Regions from separate parts of the Homo sapiens genome. Here region 2 is linked to region 1. The links come from fine-mapping of genetic effects on gene expression. A gene starts in region 1. The other region holds a variant in brackets. All regions are shown on one strand. Distances are between the middles of the regions.

What was found. PIP is the estimated chance that this variant, and not a neighbour inherited with it, causes the effect.
Region 2: its variant is fine-mapped to the expression of OVCH2 in minor salivary gland (GTEx, PIP 0.99).

The regions. Positions count from the first base shown.
Region 1 is chr11:7,702,017-7,710,359 of GRCh38, forward strand. OVCH2 (ovochymase 2) reads right to left here and starts at 4,461. Exons shown (of 16, transcript NM_198185.7): 1 at 4,291-4,461; 2 at 2,549-2,658; 3 at 1,682-1,773; 4 at 141-313. The coding sequence starts at 4,378. LOC105376533 (a long non-coding RNA gene) reads left to right here. Exons shown (of 11, transcript XR_007062576.1): 7 at 3,579-3,639; 8 at 4,209-4,262; 9 at 7,385-7,521.
Region 2 is chr11:7,898,448-7,906,790 of GRCh38, forward strand. It overlaps LOC283299 (a long non-coding RNA gene), which reads right to left and starts at 7,508. Exons shown (of 8, transcript NR_036678.1): 1 at 7,156-7,508. LOC107984307 (a long non-coding RNA gene) reads left to right here and starts at 7,875. Exons shown (of 3, transcript XR_001748116.2): 1 at 7,875-8,219. RefSeq lists enhancers at 7,052-8,251, 7,053-7,596, 7,597-8,140. The variant G/A (reference allele first, on the strand shown) is at 4,366.

The DNA.
Region 1 (8,343 bases):
GAGTTTCAGGTAGGACTCTCCAGCCTAAATTCCTATCTCAAAGTGCATGACCCAGAACGTATACTGCAGGAAATGTGCTATGGCACAGAGGTTATAGAGAACATGGGGTAGACAATTCAGTATGATCCTCAAATGTTTACCAAATTGGAAGGCTCCAGCCATCTTCAAAAGGGCAATATCATAGTCCATTGGTTTCTTGGTGGAGAAATGTGGATGTATGATGACAGTTTCAATAGTGAGAGTTTGCTCTCCTGGGTCTGTCTGGCTTAAGTCATACTCTCCAGCAGTAACATTCAAAGTAGACACAATGTTTCTATGGAAAGCAAAGAGTAAAATGAATGAATTTCATTGTGCCTCTGAGTACAGTTGCAATGGTTGACACACTAGCTTCTTTAAAATGATATGGATAAATAATATGGGGTGTGAGGCTGCTGAGCAGAGAAAGTGAGAATAATTCCAACACTGTTAGAAAAAAATGCAGAGATTCCAACTTCCAGTAGAGGACTAGTGAAGAGTGGGTTCATATATAGCCAAGGATATGATGAATTTAATACTTTGCAATGTTATTTGAAAATATCTAGAGAGGCACATACATTGTAGTTCAGGGCTCTACAGCTATAGGGGACTTTATTCAGCTACCCTGGGAGGTTGACCTGACCTAATATCAGTGAGACCCTTTGGGAATGATTTGTGATTCCCAGTAAGTATGCTACTTCAATGTCAGAGATCCTATGCTTAGTATATATTATAAGGCACAGACTGCATTATAACTAACTAATGTTCTCTGAAAGGAACTTGGTGGGATGCATTGAGATATATAAAGACTTCAGCTTGCCATCCTTTGAGACGCTTCATTCCCAGAAGTGATGCTTCTATACAAAATTGAAAAAGGCATGTTTTCTCTAGGTATACTTCCCTGACTCTTGGCCAAATTAGGTACCTAACTTAACACATAATGTCTCTCTTACCTACCACTTGCCACATTGCTGTGAGATGATCGGTTGACTCTTGTTAAAAGAAGAGTCAACTCTCTGGGGGCAGAAATCATGTCTTAGTCATTTTGGTACCTTTGGTATCTAGCACAAAGTAAACATCCAGGAAATGTTTGCAGACTTGAAATGAAAGAATGACTATATGGGAACATGATCTTGATTACAGCCTAGTATACGCCCAGAACACTGTCAATAATAGGATATTTGGATCACACAAGAAAGTGGGTAAAGGGAAGTTGTTGGGTTGAGTCCCAGAGAGGCAGGATCAATGGGAAGGAAGACAGGGAGCCTACTTTCTACTTTACTGGTCTCCCTTTGTTTTCTTTTATCCATTTCTTCAGATGCATAATGAACTAGATATTTTTTCACTGAAATTTAAGAAAACTAGAAGAAAACTTTCACAAATCCTTCTTTGTAATGCTCTTTTTTTTCTGACTTGGATGCTATTATTAACTTCCAGTTATTTTAAGTAAAAACGAATTTTACCTCTGAAAAGAATATATGTCATCTACCAAGTGCCATCTGACAATGTCACCCAGCCCCATTTGTGTCATGCAATTAGGATATTCATCTGTTAAACCAATACTCACCTATCACACAGGTCCATGTTTTAATAGGGTTATTGCTGATGATTCCAAGGGAGAAGAAATGGTGGTGTGGTCTTCACTCATGGGCTAGGCCTTTCTTACCTGTTTGCAATGCAGTGAGCCGCCGTGATCACCCACTGTGGTGAGACGATGCTTCCTCCACAAATATGCTTCTGCCTTTGTTTCAGAGATACCTAAATTGCAAATACCTTAAATGAAAGCAAGTTCATGCCCTGGGATCCCCCTAAACACGGTGATGAAGCCTATTCTCAAAACCAGACTCAGATATCACACTCGTAAATGTCAAGAATCGTGGACTGTGAAAAGATAAAGCCCAGACACTACCGCTCAGAAAGAAGAGTGGTGCTGGCAACCCTGGTCTAGATGAGAGGTAGTTAATTTGAGATGACTGGCTGTAAGTATGTGTCAACAGAGGTAGCAGTTAGAAGTGGTGAGATGTATTTACTTATTTTTATAACACAGTTGATGCAGACCTGTTGCTCTAACAATATGAACAGTGTCTGTGAATGAAGGTAAAATAGTATAAGATATTGCAGAGTCCAGCTGAAGAGGTTTGGAAGAAAGGCAAGGTGAGGGCTGGGGAGCCTTTCAACACATACTCCTATTTCTCTAAGCCTCTTAGGGAAATGGTTTGGATCTACCACTTTTCTCATACTCTTAACTATTTGACCCCTATAGCTTCTTCAAGCCTATTCTTTACCCTACCTCTCCAATATACTTTCTAATTTTTGCTTATCCTATTTGTGATACTTGATTTGATTCTAAAATGACTTACTATGTACAAGTAAATACTTTTTCTTATGACATTCATCACATGCCATGATGACTATTCTGTCTTTCAACCCAACTAGGCTGTAGGCTCCTCAAAGATATAAACTTAACCTTAAAAATATCTATATCCATAATATCTAGCACAGTTCTTGATGCATAGAAGTCCTTGAGACTCACCTGCCAGGGATAGGAACCCTTCTCCACTTGGCTTCCTCCAAGAATGCGACTGAAAATGTTAAAATAATTCCAAGGCTGTACCTTAACCAGACTCTGCCCACAACTGGGAGCTGAGAAAAAAACGAGACAAACTAAATGATTAGATAGCTTCTAGGATTGAGGTAATATCTTCTCCATTTCACCCATGAAACTGAGTCTGAGACTATGGTGTATGGTGCTCAGCACACATTCAGATATCAATAAATCTTTATTGGATTTAATTCTCTTGAGGGATGAAAAGTGACAGGTCATTTAAGGAGAGTGGAGTGAAGTGTCCTGATTCACAAGTTGGTACTCGGATAGAGGTTTGCTAGGTAATAGAAGAAAAAACTCCTCCCTCTTTATGTAAAATACTTTATCCCTGAAAAAGTTGTTTTTATTTATTTGCCCTCAATGGGTTTTCTGACTCCTCAGCAAAGAGGTAGACTAGATTAAAGATGTTTAACATCACCTGGTAACTCAAGGATGGCACATCTTCTGTCCCTCCTGGAGGTCATCCTTTTCCATATTTTGAAGGAGGATTAGAACTAGCCTTGCTTCATAATCACCATGCTTCATTGCCTACCTAAATTCTGTAATTCTTATTCCTCAGCTTGGAGATCACCTCAACCAGGAAGTCTTCCTTGATTTCCTCAAAGTGGGATTGCCTCTCCCTTGTGTTGTGTAGCACGCTTTCTTCACCCCTTTTATAGTTCTTGTCATGCAGAATTGTGATAATGAATTATTTGCCTCTATCATCGGACTATGAACTACTCAAGGGAAAAAACTTGCCTTATTCACCTCTGCATTTCTAAGGTTTAGCTTAATTCTTGGCATAAGTAAGCACTTAGAAACACTGGATGGACAAACAAATGACTTTTCTTGAGAACACATCCTTAAGAGTATAGCTATTTAGATCAACATGTTAAAATATTCAAAGCTCTTTCATACAGCTTCTCATTTAATCCCACTCTATGCCTATAAATGAAGCACTGTTATCCCCACATTGCAGATGAGAAAACTGAGAATCAAGGAGACACACAGCTGGATAATGGCAGAGCATGAATGTAACAGTAAGTGTTTTGATCCTGAACCCAGTGCCAGGATGACATTGGAACAAAAGCTTATTTTCTAACTGTTTCAGTTGAATGAGTCATAAATACTTTAAATACAAAATTTACTATTTCCCAAATTCAGTAAAGCAAAGTCAGAAAACATGTTGATTCTCAGGGTTGGCACAAGTCTGACCAAGGAGAAATCTTCCAAGAACTGTTTTCAGCTTAAGTTAGTTGAAGGGGAAAAAAGACCATTTATAATATACTACAGTGAACATGCTTCATATTTCTCAGCAAGATGATTTTGTAAAAGATTAAAAATGCTTCCAAATCCATGCTGATTTCCAGAATTTGCTCTATGAACCAAGATGGGATTATGTAATGGGTTCAAGTAAGTGAACAATCTCAGTTCACTTAGGAAAACTAAGCGAAGAAAACAGGGATTGTTTACTTAATTGGATACATTAGTTGCATTCTATAAATGTTTCACCCTGTGTCCTATGCCGATTGCAGGAGATAAGTCCAAAATAATTGTTTAAAAACAATTAGATATCCAAAATATATTTGCTTCTCCTATTTTCCCAAAGGAACATGGAGTCTCGGAGTTGTGACGTCCATTGCCAGCAAAGGTTCAGACAAAGGTAATTATAGAGTTCATTTGAAACTTACCTTTGGGGAGCGAAAGAGTTGCAGATTTACCTCGTTCAAAAAAGACTATTCCTAGTAGTAAAATCAGCTTGTTCCTGCTTATAAGCATTTTGAGACTCATAGTTTTTCCCTGAAATTTTAGAGAGACTAAAGCAAACAAAAATAGGAAGCCTTGAGAGACCAGCAATAAGCCAATTTAAAACAAGTTTATTCATTAACCAAGACGTGGTGAATCAAGCATGTCCATCTGATGTTTCTGAATGTAGTGTTTCGCAAAGATCTTTTGGAAGATGTGGAGAAACAACCACAGAAGCAGAGTCTTGATCAAGCAATATTACATATCCTATTACACCTACACCAATTAGTTGATTCCTCCAGAGTGTATCTGGCTAGCAAAGTGGTTAGCATGTAAGATTTGCATCTGCAAACATTACTTGCTCCTTTGTAGAGCTTACCACTTTTACCACTTTCTATAAGAAGATTGACTATCAATGTTGTCCTTGTTTGCAAGGGTACACTTCCCTACTTTTTTGCAAACGACCCATCCAAATGTATATAATTTTTTTGGGCAGAGATGGAGTTTCATCATGTTGCCCAGGCTGATCTCAAACTCCTGGGCTCAAGGGATCTGCCTGCCTTGCCCTCCCAAAGGTCTGGGATTACAAGTGTGAGCCACCACGCCCAGCCAATATTCTAAAATATTTTTATTTATCTTATTTTGCAAATGTAACTACATGGTTATTATAAACATATGTTGGTGAATGAGAGAAGTGGAAAGATATTTGGGTGTCACACTCAGGAAGCCCTGCTGTTAGAAAGTCATCTAGGATACTGTACATTGGGGCATTTGTGACTCTGCATTCTCCTATCATTTTTGTATTTATAGAAGGGAAACACTAAATCTCCTTTACTTCTATGCCTGGTAGATGCTTGGGAGAGTAAAGTGGCTATGATTACCTGTACATTTTCCTCTTTCCTCAACGAGTTTTGGGCACATGGTCAGTGTGTGAGAAATATTTATAGGATGGTCAATGCCATCTATGACCAGATAGAAATATAACATTTTTCTGTCAACTTTTATAAGTTACCCACTAAAAATAACAAATGTCAGCCCAAAAGCTCTTAATTTCCTTTTGGCAACTTTTGTCTTTGTACAAAAAAGTATGAAAATACAACACATACAAATAATATAAATGCAAAACAGAGAAGGTGTAAAAACTTAACATTTGTAAGCACTACATATTTAGGTACACTAATCAAGAATGTAGCCTTATGGAAAGAAGGAAACTCAAACCTCTATTGAGGCTTTATCTATAACTACTGTAATCCTGATGCCAAACATTTTTGGCTATTGGTATGGAGTGATAGCCCCAAGAGGTAATCAATCAATGTCTAAGCCCTAATCAAAGTCTCAATCTTTCTTTGACAGCAAGCTCCCTTTAAATTGCTATTGTGTTTTATCAATCACTTTTGAGAGCAACTTGACTAGGAATATGGCCTTTCTGACCCCAAATTCACTACATTCTGTCTAAAATGTGTATACTGTTAATGTCAAAAGTGCAGAAAGACCTAGTGTGGGCCTAGGATGCACTAAACTTGACAAGCCTAAAGTAGGCACATAGCATAGGACAATAAAATTTGACTCTATACTGAAAGAATGATGAGTTTTCCTTTGTAAAATGTGGGAGTGGAGCGTTTTTATTGATTGTCACACAGAAATATGATGAGCTCTTGCTTAGTGCTTAATTTCAGGAGAGGGTATTTGCTTCAAGCTCTTGCATCAGCACAACTATCAGTACACATCAACACACTCTTCACCACATGAAGCTGGTCATTAAGAGTTTGTTACTTTCATCTCTTAAGGGGCTAAAATGTGGCCCCCTTGCTGTTAAAATATTTGCTCTTCATGGGGGATGTAGCAGGTTCTAAGACACTATATTTTTGTAAGTCCAGCTATTCAACCCTCCCAGGGTCTGGATAGGAATTATAATAACTGTACATTGTAGTTACTTGCAGACAGGAATATATTAAAGTGTTGCTTGGCATGGTAGTATAAAATCAATTTTTCATTCATGAAACTATTAAACCTTTTAAAGGGGAAAAAATCTCTCTTGAGAATCTTGGACCAAAGTCTGCACCAAACATGGATTTGGAATTCAAATACATTGTTTTCCCTGTCTGTAAATCCCCAAGTTGAGAAATTAGTATCAAAATTTCTCCTGAAAGCAAAACTGTCTCTCTTCACAGATGATATGATTCTATACCTAGAAAATCTCAGGTCTACCTGTTATAACCTTCTTCTCTCTTTTTTGCAGCAATTATTTTTGTTGAAAGAATTGGTTATTTAGACCTTTAGCATTTTCTACATTCTGTATTTTGCTGATTGCAGAGCTGTGACTTTAATGTGTTCCTATAACCCTGTGATATAATCCATAGCTAATGATTATAACTTCTGTATTGTACCCTCCAATGAAAAGAGAACAACTCCAGTATGAGCAATCTCTCTCTGTCTTTTCAGATTTTTCTGTCAAAACCTTTCACCTTCTGACAGACCTCAGAACACTCCAACTTTGTTGCTGTGTCTTCCTGGGTCAATCCACACATTTGAGGTTCAATAAACCTTTATAGATTTTTTTCTGTCTTGACAGCCTCAATTTTGGTCAACAGTGCCATAAACACTCATCACCAGGAATGTTCTCAGCCACCTCCAGTGGCCCAGAGAAAGTAACAGAATGTACTGTCTGGTAGAGAGTCCCAGGAGTTGGGTTTCTGGACCTGTCTGCTTCTCATTCTCCCTGAAGTTTCCAGCCACCTGGAATTGCCCTGCCCCATGGGCCCAAATACCCCCTCACATCTCCCTCCCAGGGGAAAACACCAACTGGTTCTTACTTGGAATAAATTGGAGTGGGTCTACTCCAGAACTTTTTCAGCAGTTTTCTCCTAACAGGCATGTTAGGTTGTGGTTCTTTCCTTAATTGAATTCCATCTACTTTTTATCGTTCTAGAAATATTCATAATTTGGGGCCACTAAAAGTAGCTTTCCTTGTTCAGGTTTTCCAGCACTGCTATGAGTTCATTTGTTTAATACATCCTTCTTATCATAAATTTGGAGCAGGAGCAGGAGGACACACCGTATGGTCTCAGGCTGCCAACTTAATCCAATCGCTAAGTGGGAACCACTGAATCCTCCTTTATAAACACCTTGCATATTCCCTGTTGCAACTAAGAGATGACACTAAAGGTACATGCAAGGTAAGTTGAAGTGTAAAATAATTAAGAACAATCTGAGAATGCCTCAAGGATAATCAAAAACAATAAGGGTATTTTTAAAAATAAATTTTAAAAGGGAAGAGATGATTTGGAACTGAGGGATGATATGAATCATGCAAAGGAAGGATCACTTTGCCCCTTCTCACTGTTTGAGTCTTAGAATAGAAATGGGAGTACTCCAGAAAGTGGTTTAGTTATACCCAGGAATTTCAGCGATACTGGAGAAAGGAAGAGTGGGGAAAGTTCCTATACATACTAAGCACAGGAGATAGATAGCAAAGAAACAAACTTAGGCAAAAGTGAGCTGGCCAGAAATGAGAGGGAACAGAAGGGAAATCGTGTAGGGATTTGCCTGAGTCAGTGTTGGCAAAAGCAAAAAAATTCACACACAGGTATGAAGAAAACAGGAAAATAGGGGAAAGGAAACAGGAGTCTGTTTGGAAAAGATACAATTAGCCCCCGTATTCTTGTTGAAAACTTGATGTGTTATGCTTCAGTCTCTGTAGTTTGTCTCCAAGATACTAGCTTTTATGAAGACAAAATTTTCATGGTATGACGGAGAAAGGAAGTTAGCAGGAGATGTAGATGAGTGAGAAAGCCAGAAAAAAAGAAGTAGTTTAGGACAATAAAAAAGTTATCTCCAACAATTATGAAGTGGTGAAGGAGGCCAGTTGAGAAGATAAATCGAGCAAGTGCATCTTTCTTTCTTTTGTGTCAGTTTTGAAGCTAGTGATTGGTAGGAGCCAAAAAGAAAAAGAAAAAAAGGGATCAAGTTTCAGCTTTCCACATATGGCTAGCCAGTTT
Region 2 (8,343 bases), 200 kb after region 1:
ATTAGCTGGGCATGGTGGTGGGCACCTGTAGTCCCAGGTACTGGGGAGGCTGAGGCAGGAGAATGGCATGAACCCAGGAGGCAGAGCTTGCAGTGAGCCAAGATTGCACCACTGCACTCCAGCCTGGGCAACAGAGCGAGACTCCATCTCAAAAAAAAAAAAAAAAAAAAAAATGTGGCCCTGAAGAATTTACTTGAGTGACCCCATTTCCTCATCTGCAATTAATAGCAGTGTGGCAAAGACATTTATTGCTATTGATGATAACCTTGCCTTTAAATGATTAATTCCTGACATGGGTGTGAGGGGCATGACTGAAGACTCACTCATGTCTGTCTGGGCCTGATAAACTTTGCATACATCCCATTCTTCAAACTGCTATGAGCTACTTTTCTCGGCTAGCAGATGGCCATCTTCTCACTGTGTCCTTACGTGGCCGTCCTTCAGTCTGTGTAATGTCTGCATTCTAATCTCCTCTTCTTATGAGGATACCAGATTTTTTGGATTAAGGCCAGCCCTAGTGACCTTATTTTATCTTAATTACCACTTTAAAGGTGCTAGCTCTAAATATAGTCACATTCTGAAAGTCAGGACTTCAACATATGAATGTCAGGGGACACAGTTCAGCCCATAATGCAGAACATGACTAAAAGTGAGACTTGACTGTCACTCATGTTTGAAATGCTTGTTCCCTGGTGCCACAAAGAAATAGCACTTGAACATACATTTAATTTTCTCAGCAAGGCCATTTTTATTCTCTACAGAAAGGGTACATTCACCAGCAGTTTTGCCACAAGAGTACACCGAACAAAGGAGACAGGGTTATTTATAACCTGACGCATCCACCCTACTGCTGTGTCTGGTTTCCATTGGCTGGAATGGGACCTCACTGTAACCCACATGGACCTAGGGGGACTGAACAAAGGGGGCAAATGTGGGAATAAAACACAAGAGATGAAAGAGTATATTTGGAAGAAGGGGTCAGAGGGCACCTTGCCTCTAGTGGACAAGGGCCCTGAGCTTTACACAGCCCTCCGTATTTATTAGGCAATAGAGATAGCAAGAAGGAGGGGAGTGGTTGTTGGCTGGCATTTTATTCACAGCAGGCTGGCAAGACTGCATTCTTAGAACAATAGGAGCTAGATCTCTCAATAGATAACTTCAAGGAGCCTGGCACCATGGAGTGAGGCCCTCAGCAAACGTTTTGGTAGCAGGGCAGTGTGAGTTTGGCCACATCCTGCATTCATGATAAACAGTTTGCCGTTTGATCATATAGCCTCCAGCAGAATACTAAGTTGGTCATGTCCCACAGGCTTTCGGCTCCCTGCATATCCCACTTTTTGTTTATGTATTAATTGAAAGAATGTAAGGCCAGACTGGGTAGCTCTCATTCTCTGATTGGTGGTCCATCCAATTTTACAGAAAACATAGCATTAGAACAGTGTTGTGACTCTGGCCGGCATTCTGTCTGTCTTTACACTCAGGCTCAGCTGTCTCATGGTTCGTACCAGAAGGACCGGGCTCATGGTTGGCCACCCTGGGTTCCTCCAGTCTCCCATTCCATGGTCACACATGTCTTGAGGGCACCCACAGGGTTTGTCCATCTGTAAAAACACAAGTATATCCTCTTCCCCACGTCAGTAAATCCACCGAACCTTTACATTGTCCTTCTTCCGGGGATTTCCATAACACTTTTGGATAAACTTTCCTCTTTTCCTTTAACATTTGCCAATGTCTTTCTACTGGAGTCTTACCATCCATACTAGGAGTCAAAAAATTTAAAGTAGAGGCCGGGCGCGGTGGCTCACGCCTGTAATCCCAGCACTTTGGGAGGCCAAGGCGGGCAGATCACAAGGTCAGGAGATCAAGACCATCCTGGCAAACACGGTGAAACCCCATCTCTACTAAAAATACAAAAATATTAGTCAGGCGTGGTGGCGGGCACCTGTAGTCCCAGCTACTCAGGTGGCTGAGACAGGAGAATGGCATGGACCCAGGGGGCAGAGCTTGCAGTGAGCAGAGATCGTGCCACTGCACTCCAGCCTGGATGACAGAGCAAGACCCCATCTAAAAAAAAAAAAAAACTTAAAGTAACTAAGGCTAAAGGTAGTTTCGATTGAGGTGGTAGTTGGCCTCCTATACCCCCTTTTTGTTTTTTCAACATGCATTGTAATGTTTGATGGGCCCATTCTATAATGACTTGTCCTCTAGCATCATAAGGAATTCCTGTTTTATGGGTTATAGCCCAAAGCTGTAAGAAATTTTGAAAAGCATGACTAGTATAAGCGGTTCCATTATCAGTTTTTAATTGTTTAAGTATCCCCATATGAGCAAATGATGACAATGTCGCCATACATGACCAGCTGTCTCACCTGCTTGGCATGTAGCATGCAGCATCTATAGTCACATGAACATAGCTAAGCTTACCAAAGGTAACTATTGTGTAACATCCATTTGCCAAACTTCATTTGGAGCCAAACCTCATGAGTTACAGCCTTCTACAGGTGTGGCTCCAGGGACATGCTGACAAGTAGGACAGGCTTGTATTATAGCCCTAGCTTGGCTGCAAGATAAATGGAACACGCAAGTAAGGGTGGAAGTATTTTGATGCAGAAGCGCATGAGATGCTTGAGCTTGCTGAAACACAGAACAAATCAATTTATATCTACTTTATCATTCCCTAGGGATAATGGTCCTGGAAGTTGTGTATGAGAACAAATATCAGAAATATGAAAAGGATCTGCATGAGAACGAGTAACTCGCTGAAGTCTTTTTTTGTTTTGTTTTGTTTTGTTTTTCACATTAGATGTTGGTAGAAATTTTTATTTTTTTAACTTTTAGGTTCGGTGAACATATGTAGGTTTGTTATATAAATAAATTGCATGTCACAGAAGTTTGGTGTACAGATTATTTTGCCACCCACATAATAAGCATAGAAACTGATAGGTAATTTTTGGATCCTCATCCTCTTCCCTCCCTCTATCCTCAAGCACGCCCCAGTGTCTGCTGTTCCTTTGTGTCCATGTGTACTCAATGTTTGGCTCCCACTTATATGTGTGAACATGATGTCTTAAAAATAAATTAAACAGTTCTGGGTCTAGTGTACTTTTAATTGTAGCAGTTTCTATGTGACTGGTTACATTTACAACATAAGCTGAATCACAGACAATGTTGATAGGATCTGAAGCTGCGAGCTGTAAAACCTGAATGACTGCAATTAGCTCTGAGCCTTGAGCTGAAGCCCCAGATGTCATTATTATTTGAGTATGTTTACGTCCATAGATAGCAGCATGACCTCTGGAAGAGCCATCAGTAAAGTAAGTCTGTCCACCTGCAATAGGCTTGTGATGAGTAATCACAGAAAGAATGAAAGAATGGATTTTATAAAACTGTAAAATTTTGTCTGAGGGGTAGTGATTATCTATAGCACCCATGAAATCTGCAAAAGCAATTTGCCAGGCAGTTGACATTTCCCAAGCTGTGGCTTGTTGCTGGGAGTCTAAAGGAACAATAATTTTGTCAGGGTCATATCCCATAAGCATTTTTGACCTATGCCTGCCCATAGTCACAATTTGTGTAATTAAAGAAAGATAAACTTGCAAGGTTTTGACTGTTTGATTAGGTAGAAAGAGCCATTCTATTACTGTTGCAGACTTGTCTATGAACTGGCCCAATAGTCCTGTTGGAGAGTGGGGGGTAGGAGGAATAAACAAAAGCAAAGGTTTTTGCAGTTGTAGCTGTGAGGCATGTCTCTGCTGTAACATTTTCTCTACAAGCCGTAATTCGGCTTCTGCCTCTTTAGTTAGTTGCCATGGGGAATTTAAAGTAGAATCTCCTTGCAGGGTTTGGTAAAGATGTGTAAGTTGATAGGTAGCAATACCTAACATTGGCTGTAGCCAATTAATATCTCCTAATAATTGTAGAAAATCATTTAAAGTCTGTAACCTGTCTTTACAGAGAACTACTTTCTGAGGCCGTACACTTCTCTCCATAACAATAATTCCTAAGTATTGGTATGGGGAAGTTGTTTGTACCTTTTTCAGAGCTATTTTGAGATTCCATTTAGTCAAAGCTTGCTTCGTTTCTCTGAATAACTGCTGTAGGATTTGATCTATAGGAGGGGCCAAAAGAATATCATCCATAAAATGAATGATGTAAGCAGTAGGAAACATATTCCGAGACTCCTTTAATGCCTGTCCTACAAAATGTTGACATAGCATGACTTGGGGGTAAAACTCTCCATTGATAACAAGAAACAGGTTCTCTTTGGTTAATAGAAGGCACAGAGAAGGCGAATCAAGGCTTATCCTTCTCATGTAAGAATATAGTAAAGAAACAATCCTTAAGATCTATTAATACAAGAGGCCA[G/A]ACTCTTGGAATAGCCACTGAAGATGGTATACCTTTTTGTAAGGCATCCATCCATTTTATATGTGTATTAATAGCTCTTAAATCTTGTAGCAGTCACCATCTTCTGGACTTTTTTAGAATAACAAACACTGGAGAATTCCAGGAGCTAACTGACTCCTCTATGTGTCCAGCATCCCACTGATCTTTTACTGGCTGTTGAAGTTGTGTCGGCTTCTCCTGAGATAGGGGCCATTGATCCACCCACATGGGTTTGTCACTGAGCCATTCTAATGGTAAGGCAGTGGGCAGAGGAGAAATATCAATGACCTCCATCAGAAATCCTGACGTCCTAGCCCTTAGCTATCTGTTTTTCCAGTTACTGCTATTGGGTTAGGATTTCCCTGAAGAAATTTTCCTAAAGGTTTTCCCTGCTGATATCCCATGTTCTTTAACATTTTAAGTTCTGGGTTATCAAAAGTTTCATTTGTAAGTCTCATATCCCATGCTGTAAGTCTCAACCCCATAATTTGATGGCTATACTTGCAACATGAGGCTGAAAAGTACATGACTGTCCATCCACACCAAGACAAGATAAAATTTCAGCATACTGTTGAACACTTTGAGCTGTTCCTACTCCCATTAGGGACATAGAAGTTAATTGCAAGGGCCAGGATGGGGGGCCAATTGTCTTTACATATTACTGAAACATCAGCTCCCATATCCATAAGCCCATAAAATGTCTGTCCTTTAATTTGTACTACACAGGTGGCTCTATTAGAGGCTATGGGTTGGGATAGATAGATTTCCCAAGTAGTTGTGCTCCCAAACCCTTTATTTCCTCATTTCTCCTTTCATGGAGAAGGGTGTAATTTGCAGGGAATAAGCAATAATTGAGCAATATATTCTCCTGGTTCAAAAACCCAAAGATCTTGTGACATTAAAACTACTTGAATTTCTCCTTCATAATCAGAGCCAGTCACTACAGTAATGCCTTGCAAGTTAAGGCAGCTTTTGGCTAAAATTAGTCTCATATATCCTGCTGGTAAAGGTCCCCAAATGCCAGTGGGAACTTTCATAGGTTTGTCTCCACCAACTAAAGTGATTCTTTCTCTGGCGGGTAGATCTAATCCTGCACTTCCTGGTGTTCCTGGGGTGAGGGGATCAATGTGCCTCTGGGAACTGACCTCTGAAATGGGGTTGAGGTCTGGACTGGGAATGCCCTTATTGTTTGTGGGGCCTGGGTCCAGGCCCCCATCTCGTTTCCCAGCAGGGGGGTGCCATTCTGATGAAATTTTGAGTGGCACTGATTAGCCCAGTGATTTCCTTTCATACAGTGAGGACAGAATCCTGGTGTTTATTCTGCTGGGTGGGGCACTGCATTGTAAGGTCCTTTCTGTCCTGAGATCTGGCAGCATTCCTTTTTAAAATGTCCAGTTTTTCCACATTTATAATATTTTCCCGTTTTGGGGTTTGACCCTTGGCTCCTTTTAGATTTGTCAACTGATAAATTAGCTATTGCTTGTGCTAACATTGCAGAGTGATGAAGCTCAGTTCCTACATCTTGACAAGCTCTGAGAAAATTTCCCAAGTTTTTTGTACACCTCACCAGTGCCAGTGCACATTTACAATCCGTGTTTGCATCCTCAAAAGCTAGTGTTAAGGTTAGCATTTCTGCAGCCGCAGTATGAGAAATCTGACACTTCACTGCCTCTTGTAATCATGCAAGAAATTGCACATAGGGTTCCTGCAACCCTTGTATGATACATAAAAAGGATTGTACTGGGACTCCTTCAGGAATAGTGGCCCAGGTGCATTTAGTGGCCTGTGCACACTGCTGATAAGCAACATCTGGGAGTCCCATTTGAGGTTCCAGGTCTGAATAAGGGCCATTACCTAATAGCATATCCTCTGTAATGTCTCCATTTCCAGCAGCACAGTTCTGTCTAGCCTGGTCTGCACACATTTCTTGCCAATTTAAATTCCATGTCAGATATGCAGTAGCCGACAAGCAAATTCACGCCAAGTGTTTCACATCAAATGGTAAAAGACGCATAGCACCAAACACAGATTCTAGCAATCCTAAGGTGAATGGGTTCTGTACGCCATTGTTTACCACACTCGCTTTTAATTCCTTTAACAAGTTAAAATCTAGTGGAGTGTGTTCATGAATAACCTGCTGTGCATTGTTAGGATTAGGCCTTATGGAAATAGGAAAAGCGTGAGGTCCTAAGGGCTCTCCAGCTATTGCAGCAGAGCATAAAATTCTTTGTATTGGAGTCTCTATTTCTGCCACCAAAGGAGGCGGTACAAATGTTTCTGCAACTGGAGGAGGCAGTATAGGCCAACTTTTATCCTCCCTCTCCTGTTTTTTATTTTCAGTTGGAGCTGTGGGTGGGACAACAGATTCTTTTAGATTTTTAGATTCAGCCTGCTGTCCCGCAGAATAATGAGATAATAGCAGAAGTACAGTACAAACTAAACTCCAAGTGGAGAAAACAGAAGAATCAACTTCAAGACCTTTTTGATGAGCCTGTTTTAATCCTTCTCCTGCTCTATCCCAGTTTTCCACATCAAGAGTGCCTGCCTGTGGAAACCATGAGTTATGCATAATAACTTTGTGTGGCTTCTGCAGGAGGTTAGTGTCTGAGAATTAACCTGAGCTCCAGACTGTCTCAACAGAACTTTAAGCAACTGCACATAATGTTTTTCTTCAACAGACAAGTTATTCCCCCTGCTACCCTGATTCAGAAAGCTTCCCATTCCCAGCACTTCTATAAAGCACTGCTCCCAGTACCTCTTTAGAGCACTGACCTTATATATGCTGCCGGCAGACTCATCCTGGGGTCCCCGTTTGCCTTGTCAATTTCAGCTTCTCTGCTCCAGCAGATCTTTTTTGTTCACATCGTCGAAGTCCCGTGTTCAGACGCCACTTGTTGGCATCCTTGGCGTCCCTGTTCTGAGTCACCACTTGTTGAGAACCCAATTGTGTCACTGTTTGGGGCACCACTATGTAACCTGCATGGACCTAGGGGGACTGAACAAAGGGGGCAAACACGGGAATAAAAGACAAGAGGCAAAAGAGTATATTTGGAAGAAGGGGTCGGAGGGCACCTTGTCTCTAGTGGACAAGGGCCCTGAGCTTTACACTGCCCTCCATATTTATTAGGCAATAGAGATAGTGAGAAGGTGGGGAGTGGTTGTTGGCCAGCAGCTTGATTCGCAGCAGGCTTGCAAGACTGCATTCTTAGGTGCTAGACTTCTCAATAGATAACTTCAAGGAGCCCAGCGCCAGGGAGTGAGGCCCTCAACAAACCTTTTGGTGGCAGGGCAGTGTGAGTTTGCCCACATCCTGCATTCATGATAAACAGTTTGCTGTTTGATCCTATAGCCTCCAGCGAAATGCTGAGTTGGTCACTTCCCAGGGGCCTTCAGCTCCCTGCACCTCACATTCTGTATTTGTCCTGATTAGCCAGCAACTTAGAACTTTTTAAAAGAGGCAAAGGCAGAGGAGAACAAAGGAGGAAGTAACTTGTGGAATGCTGAGAAAGGTAAAAACACCTCCAAATAAGGAAGAGGAACAGACTATGACTTAATACTTGCTTGGACCAGTGTAAGCATGCCAGGGCAAATATTTAGGCTAAATTGTGGGAGCTAAGAACACAAAGTACATTGATTTCTTTATTATAGCTAGCAGATATCTAAGAATGTTAGCACAGGTCTTTGAATAAATTTTGTTTCTGAGAGAAGTTACTATTTATTCCTAATTAGACGGGGAGGAAAGTCTCTTTGAAGAGGAACCTCTATTTTATTTTTACACTCAGAAGCCCGGGCAGCTCTGCCGGGAGTGCAGGGAGGCAGCTCTCCTGGGGGTGCAGGTAGGCAGCTCTGCTGGGGGTGCGGGGAGGCAGCCAGGCTTTTGTTGCACTTCCATCTACTGGCAGCACACACAGAAAGGAAATACTCCCAGTGGCTAGATTCCACCCATCATATCATTGGACT